Linked DNA regions of Homo sapiens: regions 1 and 3 are each reported to be linked to region 2. The links are microRNA targets in miRTarBase. Many come from high-throughput screens and were not tested one by one. Region 2 holds a microRNA gene; each other region holds the end of a gene's coding sequence.

The links. The annotated mature microRNA hsa-miR-6748-5p reads UGUGGGUGGGAAGGACUGGAUU and lies in region 2 at 1,024-1,045, shown strand. An mRNA with a match to its seed (bases 2 to 7 or 8) in the 3' UTR can be bound and repressed. Matches are read on the target gene's strand: a 7mer-m8 pairs with bases 2 to 8, a 7mer-A1 pairs with bases 2 to 7 and ends in A, and an 8mer does both.
Region 1: the mRNA of ZNF641 is a reported target of hsa-miR-6748-5p. The part of its 3' UTR that is shown has no 7-base or 8-base seed match.
Region 3: miRTarBase lists HAPSTR1 as a target of hsa-miR-6748-5p. Seed matches in the 3' UTR shown: 7mer-m8 at 2,769-2,775.

Annotation. Positions count from the first base shown.
Region 1 is chr12:48,340,010-48,343,262 of GRCh38, reverse strand. It overlaps ZNF641 (zinc finger protein 641), which reads left to right. Exons shown (of 6, transcript NM_001172681.2): 6 at 1-3,253. The coding sequence ends at 290. Among named protein-coding and RNA genes, the nearest start is that of ZNF641, 9.3 kb to the left of the region's middle.
Region 2 is chr11:62,788,797-62,792,004 of GRCh38, forward strand. It overlaps MIR6748 (microRNA 6748), which reads left to right and starts at 1,019; the gene lies at 1,019-1,089. It overlaps TMEM179B (transmembrane protein 179B), which reads left to right. Exons shown (of 5, transcript NM_199337.3): 2 at 227-414; 3 at 496-630; 4 at 805-883; 5 at 1,090-1,604. The coding sequence ends at 1,251. TMEM223 (transmembrane protein 223) reads right to left here. Exons shown (of 2, transcript NM_001080501.3): 1 at 2,883-3,208; 2 at 1,175-2,119. The coding sequence starts at 3,198. The coding sequence ends at 1,827. RefSeq lists an enhancer at 2,610-3,119 and a silencer at 3,190-3,208.
Region 3 is chr16:9,116,451-9,119,703 of GRCh38, reverse strand. It overlaps HAPSTR1 (HUWE1 associated protein modifying stress responses), which reads right to left. Exons shown (of 4, transcript NM_014117.3): 4 at 1-3,036. The coding sequence ends at 2,792. Among named protein-coding and RNA genes, the nearest start is that of HAPSTR1, 26 kb to the right of the region's middle.

The DNA of each region.
Region 1 (3,253 bases), not on the chromosome of region 2:
CAGAAGGCAAATCCTGCAAAGGCCAAGAGGTTGGAGAGAGCCCTGGCACAAGGAAACGGCAGCGTGCCCCACCAGTGCCAAAGTGTCACGTGTGCACTGAATGTGGGAAGAGCTTTGGCCGAAGGCACCACCTTGTGAGACACTGGCTGACCCACACTGGGGAGAAGCCCTTCCAGTGCCCTCGCTGTGAGAAGAGCTTTGGCCGAAAACATCACCTGGACAGGCACCTGCTCACCCACCAGGGACAAAGTCCCCGGAACAGCTGGGACAGAGGAACATCTGTCTTTTGAAATCTGTTTCCACTACAGCTATGGTCAAGTCTATCAGCCGGTGCTACCAGGAGTCACTGCCAGGGCTGCCGTTCTCCTGAACCCCAGTGGCCAGAATCATAAGCCCTGACCCCATCCCTAGAAAGATGAGGTCCCAGCAATGGCCAGAGCATTTCTCACCAGTTCTGTGAGATAGCACATAAAAATAGAGTTCTTTGGGCAAAACTTTTGGGAAGCAATGCATCCTACATGGGCTGATATTCAGCCTGAGCTGTTCTCAAGAGGAGAGTGGTACTGGCAGTTTATGGCTGAAATCCATTCTGATTGGTTGGAGTCTATGCTATACCAGTTGTTAAACATTTTGAGTATCACTCTTGCATACTGTTACTATTATATTTTCTCTATATATAGACAGAAAGGCCATTTTAGAATATTAAAGGCTCTGAAAATTTCTGCAGTAGACCCAACTGAAGGTTCTATTAAGGCAGTGTTTCCTAAATGTATTTGACCTCAGTATCCTTTCTATTTACATCCCACAGAACTGGTGACTATGAAACACTCTGGTGAACACTGGGTTAGAGAGTAACAAGGAAACAAGAGATAGTGATCAGGCATCCAGAGCCCCCTTTTTTATCCATATGAAAGCCAGGGGGGCCAGACCTTGTTCATGTGTGGGTCTGTCTTCCTTATGCCAATCAGCAGTATATACATCACCTCTCACCCTCACCTGCTGAAAAAATAACCTTTTTACCCATTATTCCTACTCCCTTCATCCTGCACATACATATATCCAGCTGAGAGATCACACTACAAGGCTAAGAGATGATCTAATACCCCCAAATAGCCCTGGCCCACACAGAAAAACAGAAAAACAAAAAAAACTTTATCCCCTTGAACAGTCCCCTCTCTCCTCTTGACTGTCTTTATGTGTCTGTGTATTTGTGTGCAGGGTCTTTGAAGACAGCATGCTATGTGCAAACTGTACAAGCTAGGTTTTCTAGGGGCTGTGTTCTGGGGATGAGGGTAGTGGGGATTATATGGGGTTTTTTCTTTGTTTCAAGACAGGAAGCAGTCTGGTTAAGGGAGAACTAGTGGAAAGGGTTAAATGACAGGTTAAGTTGAGTACAAAGCTTTCCCAGTACTGCTGAGATTAAGACAATTGTGGATGTGTATGTCTAGGTTTGAATCTCTGGGCTGCAGATTGCTTTTGCCCTGGCAGAGAAAGAGGAGTCTTTGGGGAGGTGAGCTGTTTCTTGTTGATTTCAGGCAAGAGGCACATAGAAACTTTGTATTGAGTGGGGATTTTGTTTTAAGTGCTGGAAAATTAGGGCAGGAATTACGTGTTTGCAAGTTGTTGCCATCACTGGTTTGAATTTGACTGCCTCATCAAGGGGCAAGAGTTATTCTTGAAGATCTCATTCTCCCAGAAACAGAACTTTAGGGAAAATGGCTGTGGCTTAGCTTTTCAGCTGCTGCAGGGTAATAAGCTTTCTGGTTGGTTTTCCTTCCAATTCTGGAAAGGTGTCCACACTAAGACCCTTAACTCTAGGGCTTGCATAAGTATTCTAGCATCGTTAGCTAATGAGTTGGTCATTGTTTCTCTTTATCAATAATTGTGTTAATACCAATCTTATAATTTAAAAATTATCTTGTATGTAAGAGCAGTTCGGGGTTAGGGAGGAAGAGGAGCAAAGTGGGATATTTTCTCTTTAATGCTTAGATACTGTTTCTTCCCTAAGATGTGTTTCTCAACCACAATTGGTGGAATGAACCAGAGAGGCAAGAGGAAGTGAATTGCACCAATTTAGTTTAGCGACTGTGCCTTTTGCAGGAAAAACTGGGTGAATCACAGCTCCTCAGAGTCCTGGACTCAACTAGAATTGAAGATAGACTTATTTTGCTGACTGGGCTTCTTAGAGTTTATGTGACTTGAACAGCTTGGCCCCTGCCTCCCTTCTGCTACTGTGAGCAGCCTTCCTTCTTCCTTCATTCTTCCTGGAATGCAGTTCTCTTGCTTATGATCCTATGAATAAGGCAAAATGGCTGGTCTTTGTAAGGCAGGTCTTGCCCTAGCTTCTCAGAAACAGGAGCATTTTAGGATCAGTATTAGGAGATGCCCCAGGGAGTAAGAAAGTATTGGGTTCAGTGATAAATCTGGACTCTGACATTTCTTTTACTCTCCCTCTTTAATACTAAAAGCTCTGCATAAGCAATGGTTCAGAACCTGTCTTGGGTACAGACCTGTTGAATCTGACAGAAACCAGAAACGCACTTTTGAGAAAAAGACATTTGTAATTCACTCAGTTTTCCATACACATTTAGCAGGTTCAAAGCCCATCTGTGGAATCCCTAAACTGCCTTCAAAGAAAGGGAGTTCCCCGATCTAAAATGGTCATTATATATTTGTGTCAAGAATTAGAAGGCAAGGGTCACTAAATATTTTAAGGATTAAGGTACCAGAGGCATCAGTGGTATAAGGATGGAGTCTGGTCTTTAATTACGACAAGGGTATTGCTTACATTCTACTCTCTGGTTTTCAAAAAGATCTGACATGCTGACAAATCCAGCTCCTCACAAATCTTGTTTGAAGGACTTGTGGGAAGTGATATTCCTTACTATTAGATCACGCCCCTTATAACTACATGTTAACATCCAGCCTTTTATCTGTTTGAGTAATTGTAGGGATAGAAAGTGAAGCCCCCAGAGTTAGGTGCAAGTATAGCACCCAGCTGAAAGGCATCATGGAGTCTAAGGGCCTTCTACAGAAGGGGCAATCCTTTGGGTTATTTCTGGTGTACCACTGTCTTCTCTACCTCGGTCCAACACCACCTCTCTTGGACAAAAAATAAAACAAGCAACAGCCATCAGATGAGTGAATAGATTTGAATGATTTTTCCCACAGGGAATCAGCCTCAAATGTTCATGTTTCACCCCGTCCCCTTTAAATAAAAAGAATCTCTGTGTTCTCTTTGGGCAAAATGTAA
Region 2 (3,208 bases):
GCATTCTATATTCATTGCCTATTTTCTGATCCTTCTGGCCACTGCCGGTGTGATTCCCCAGCAGGCCCTCTCCATCAATATCCCTGTCCCAGAAATAGGAATTGACGGTGCACAAATAACTTCCTGGAATGCAGGACCATTCCTAAGTTATCACTAACACCCTACCAAGAGACTGTATCTAGAGACATTAACCTGAAATCTAGGACTCAGCAGCTTCTCTCCACAGGGCTCCTTCAGTGGTAGATGTCCCCTGTATGGTGTGGCCACCCTGAATGGCTCCTCCCTGGCCTTATCCCGTCCCTCAGCACCATCCCTGTGCTACTTTGTAGCTGGGGCCTCTGGCCTCTTGGCCCTCTACTGCCTCCTGCTTTTGCTCTTCTGGATCTACAGCAGCTGCATCGAGGACTCCCACAGGTGACTGCCTAACCCTGAGGGCCAGGGGCTGAGGTAGGATGAGCCTCACCTCCACCACAAGGCTTGTTCTCTCCCTTTCAGAGGTGCTATAGGGCTGCGCATTGCACTGGCCATCTCAGCTATAGCCGTCTTCCTGGTCTTGGTGTCTGCCTGTATCCTTCGATTTGGCACCAGGTCTCTCTGCAACTCCATCATCTCCTTGAACACTACAATTAGGTAATGGGAGAGGGAGGGAAGCCTGGCTGGGGCTGACTACCTTCCCTCTGCAGCGGGGTCCTATAATTTCCTTTTATCCCCATCAGTTGCTCTCAACTCACAGGGCACTGGGCACAGGTGTGCCTCGGATATAAACTATCACGCTTTCTCACAACTGTCTCTTTGACCTCACAGCTGTTCTGAAGCCCAGAAAATTCCATGGACACCCCCTGGAACTGCTCTGCAGTTTTACTCCAACCTACACAATGCTGAAGTGAGACCCAAGGATAGGAGGAAAAACTGACATAAATATCTGTAGCTGTGTGGGTGCTCACCAGTGTATTGTGAGCTTGGCCTACCAGTGAGAGGAGCTGAAGGGGTTGTCAGCTTAAAATTCAGCAGTTCAGAGTGGTGTGTGGGTGGGAAGGACTGGATTTGAAATGGTCCCACTCCTGACGATCCTGTCCCTGTCTCCTACAGACCTCTTCTTGGGTGAATTTGGTATTGTGGTGTGTGGTCTTGGTGCTCCAGGTCGTGCAGTGGAAGTCTGAAGCCACCCCATACCGGCCTCTGGAGAGGGGTGACCCTGAGTGGAGCTCTGAGACAGATGCTCTCGTTGGGTCACGCCTTTCCCATTCCTGAAGAATAAGCGGAGTGCTTCCTGCAGCCGAAGACTCCATGCCCAAGTGCCTGTAATCCCCCCCCTCAAGGCCCTGTTTATGTTGGGAGTCTTAGTTTTCCTTTCGTTGGGGGGTGGGGGGGAAACATAATGACAGGCCCCCCTCCACCTCTTCCTGCAGCTGTTTTTGTACCAAAATATTATATTACTGTCTTCATCTTAGTAGTGAGTTTTTGATGTTAAAGTACAACTAGATAGGAGGAAGGAGTGAAGGCTAAGCAGACATGGACTGAAACTTAGAGGTACTGTTAGGCAGCTGCCCTAGGGATGACTGCTCCTTTATTTGTTGTTAATGAATCTTGACCTCCTTGTGTGACCCTGGTTGTTACTCCATTCTAAGATTGGCGTTTTTTTTTGTTTTTTTTTTTGTAAATAGAGACAAGGTCTCGCTATGTTGCCCAGCCTGGGCTCGAGCAGTGCTCCTGCCTCACCCTCCCAAAGTGCTGGGATTACAACAGGTGTGAACCAACACACCTGGCTCCCCAAGGTTCAGTTTTTATCCTCCTCTTGGAGAGGTGAGTGACTTGAGGTCATTTCTTCACAAGCTCCGGTAGGCACCCACAGTATTGTCAAAGAGTTTTGTGTTAGGGAAGTGTCCAGTTTTGTCCAAGAGGAAATAGAAGCGTCGGCCTTTGACTTTCAGAGGTAGCATGGCAGGGACTTCACCCCGGTGGGCCATGCAAGATACCTGCTTCAAAGGAACTGTGAAATGGGCCCCCAAGCCAAAGGGGGCATGAGTGGTGAGGGTCACCTGCTGCCCTCCAGCTCGAAGCACCACTGAGCGCACAGACCGGAGAGAGAAGAGAAGACCAGCACCGAGTACGAGGGCTCCTGCAGGCAGGGCAGAGATTGGGGTGAGGGGTTTTCACTGGGCATCTAAGTACCGACCTTTCCAGTGCCCTCTGAATAAGAAATTTGTGGGATGAAAGTAGTATTTACTGAGCGCTTTTTTTTTTGAGACTGAGTCTCACTCTGCCGGCCAGGCTGGAGTGCAGTACTGAGCTCCTGTTATACCCAGTAATCTTGTTATTCCTCCCAACAACCTTAATAGATGTCCGTTTCCATTTTAATGGGAAGATGGAGAGCTTTAAGGACCTTGCTCAAGGTCGCAGAGTGAAGGGCAGCCCTCAGCCTAGGCTATGACAGGGCACGGCGCTCGGAGACATCACTGTTTCCCAATTTTTTTTTTTGAGAGGGGAGTCTCGCTCGGTCGCTTAGGCTGGAGTGCAGTGGCGTCATCTCGGCTCACTGCAACCTCCGCCTCCCAGGTTCAATTGATTCTCCTGCCTCAGCCTCCCGAGTAGCTGGGACTACAGGCGCTTGCTACCACGCCCAGCTAATTTTTTGTATTTTTAGTAGACACAGGGTTTGACGGTGTTAGCCAGGATGGTCTGGATGTCCTGACCTAGTGATCCGCCCGCCTCCGGCCTCCCAGCATTTGAGCCGCCGCGCCCGGCCAGTGTTTCACATTTCTGTGGGGTAAAGCCCGCCCGCCACTCTCGGATAGGGAGTCCCTGACTCTCCCTGCCTGTATAGGGAAGGTCGTGTCCCGCCACCCCACGTTGTCACAGTGGGAAGCCAGCCCACGTCTTACCGATGGCGCCGCAGCCGACGGCCAGACCGTAGCGCCAGAGCGCGGAGCGCAGGTCGAAGGGGCCACGATTTGGGACCTCCGCATCCAGAGGCTGCACCGGAACCGGGGGCCGGGACACGGCTGCCACAGCCATGGAAGCCCAGAAGACGCCCTGGCCCGCGCAGAACAGCCCGAGGATGGTGAAGAAGCGGCCCCGATCATGCTCAAAGAGCAGCACATCCCGTTGCAGCGTCGTGCCTTGCAGGGGCCGGCAGGTGAGCAGGGGCCGCAGCACGGCTAGCAGCCCCGTGGGCCATCGCCTCCAAGGCGCCGCCATGGCCAGCCGA
Region 3 (3,253 bases), not on the chromosome of region 2:
CCCCATGGTTTTTTTGTTTTTATTCATTTTATGATTAAGGTGTTTATCACTACTCCAGTTGGGTAAACCACATTGAAGAATCTGACTGCAGGTCTTTAGATTCAGCCAAATGCTTTCCAACAATTTTGCTCTAAAAAATATTAAACATTTTAATACTTCAGCCATGCTCAGAACGCTGCAGTCTAAGGATGAACTTCAACTTGCCCATGCCAAGTTAGGGCGACAGGAGCAGAACTAAGGAGCTATGACGTCTAAAAGAATCAGAGAATCTGGCTTAAGACGAAGAGAGCTTCTGTTCCCCAAAACTAAACTGTCTAGTTTTTAAATCCACCCTTAACCGTTCAAGAAACTGAAAAAGTCAACTTGTTTTTAAAATACCACACAGGTATGCAATCTTCCATGATTTGTTTTGCATCTCAGCTAGCACAGGGAAACCCTTGAAAAACCTAGCTGTCAGAAGTTTTTCCTGAGGGAAATCATTACGCTTCTACTGCTGAGCTTCATGTTTATTCTGTGCGTCGGGGAAAGGAGAAAGCAATGGGACAGAGAAGGGAAAAGTTGCGACTGGGTGACAAATTCATTAGGTGCATTTGAAAGTAAACGCAATGGAAAAAAGTAACAAATGCTAAAGTTTTCTAAAAGTTTAATGAAGCCAATAAGGCATATAAATTGTGTTCTGGCAGACATTAAGACCTGCTTTCTCTTACCAAAGAAAATGGCACGTTTTATCAAAATTTGACAATTCAGAGTAAAGGGTACTGAGATTAAGCTTCAGAGCACCAACTTAAACAAAACAACCAAAAAATTGTTATCCAACGTGGAAAGAGGAGCAAGAACCAAGGCATAAAGGGGAATTAAATATGTGTTCCTCCATCTCAAAATCCTTTTAGGAATAGGAGTTCTGGCCACTTGTGAGCAACACATTGCACCACCAAACCCCAATTCCAGAATCTAAATTTACGATAGAAAAACAAAGGTAACTCCAAACGCATGTCTTGTATATTCCAAAGGGAAGCTTGAAAGTATTCATAATACATAGGCTTGTCTGTTTCAGGTAAAATGACAGATTGCTATAATTCTTCCTGCTATTATAGTCAAACAAAAAATGACCCACTTTCGCAAAAGTTTAGAAATCTCTCACTTTCATTCCTAGTTTTAGTATGGAATTCACTTTTTTAAATAAGGGCTACATCTATAATGAATACAGAACTTCAATTCACACAACATTTCTAACATTCCATTCACATCCCACCCAGTCAATGAATGAACATTTATGGTTAACTCAGCAAAGTTTCTTCACAGAAAGATATTATTAAATGGCTGAAGAAATTGCAAACTTTAACAAAGTGCTGTGAGTAATTACTGGAAAAACCCTTACACTGATTTGCAATGGTCTTTTAAGGATAAAAATAGGAAGTAACTGATACTGGACTACAAGTTTGCAAGGAAACATTTTTCACTGTCCTACTTGATATATAATATAATAATATGATAGAATAAATTACAGTACCTGGCAGGCTGACATCAGTTCTTCATCTAAAAAAACACTATCATTCAGTTCAGGATATTAAAAATGAAGATGAAACATGCTCTAAAACATTGTAGCTACAAGAGGTCTTATATTTACTCAAAAGAGGAATCTATTGAGAACTTTTTATTTAGGTCTACCTAACAGCTAGAGAATCTCCATGCGATTCCATCTTTTCCAGAATGAGATTCCAAACTGAACTTTTTAGGAGAGGGATTGGAGGGACAGGGAGAGTTGGGTTTTGCTATTTTAAGTTGCAATCACATTATTAGTAGATAAAAAAGAGAGCTTTATCATCTTCCACCCATTCCAATGGAAACTGCACTAAGCAGGGACTCCATGAAAAATGTAAAATGATAGACTAGAAAACCTACCCCACCATCCATCTCCCTCTCCCTCTCACTAATACTGAACCAAAAAGGAAGCCCATTCTCAAAGTTCATGACCTCTCTACTTTAGGTCACCTCGAATGCAGTCTACATGTTTACATTTACCATAAGGAAAGTACCCCGCATGGGAAGTAGTGTTTGTCTTAAAACTGAGTACTTTAGGCCTACAGGGTTACTCTGGGGACAGTTTAATAATAATACTGCTACTTTAGAGCACTAACACACACAAAGTGAATCCAATAAAGCTCTGGGCATTGATTCAATATTTAGTATTAATTGCATGACCATCATAGCACCTCTTTACATCACACAATCACCAGAATTAGAAATTGATTTGAAAACTAAAAACAGGGCACAGTCCAATAATTAGAATTGCACACTGTTACTATATAGAAACCAGGTGCATGGTACAGTGCAGCTGCAAAAATGGAAGCCAAATCATGTTTTTAGACAATTTTAGGAACCTGGCAATACTGTTGAAGCAAAATACTCAACACAGCAGGAAATGGACCCAAAAAAAAAAAAAGCATTCTATAACCAAATAAACATCTGATATTTCCTTTCCCTTTGAGAATAAATACAGTTAAGGTCACTTTTAGCCTTGGAACGGATATATGTTTGCCTATGATGATCTTGCTAACGACTACACAATATCTGATGTCCTCTGCTAGGATTATAGTTTTAAGAAAGCCATAATTACAAGAGGCATCTACTATAAATACCTAGAACTTCCTTTTATGGCAACCACTATAGAATTCACTTGTCTTAAACAGTGAACAAGGGAAGATGGCCTCATGTTTCCTTTGCAATTATAGTATATGTTGAGGATCAAGTGGCTTTCAAGCAGCATGGTGGGTGTGAAAATGTTTGCAGTTTAGATCATTCTGTTGCGTTTATGGGTTGGTGAGTCTGTAATGACATCGCCACACTGGGCTGAGGTACGCTTTCTAGTTCCACCATTGTCCAAGTGGAGTGCCATTTCTTCTGATATGAAAGTGTTCAAATCGACATCATGGAGTCCATTTCTCCTTCGACTAGCATTCGATCCACTGCTTACATGTGTAGGAGAGCCTGGGGTACTCGAACGCACGCTTATACTAGCCATTGCACCACTAAGACCTAGGAAGAAGAAAAAAGGTTTTAGAGTTGCTCAATTATGTAACCCTTTTGAAAGCAACCCACTTACTTTCCATGTTGTCACAATGTCAAAGCATGTCTGCCTATTTCCTTTATAAGGGATTACTAGTAAGCAATTAAGTTTTATTCTGGATAAACATATCATCTGGCCTTGACATATATTTTATTGGTAATACTACCAATATCTACAATATTGGTA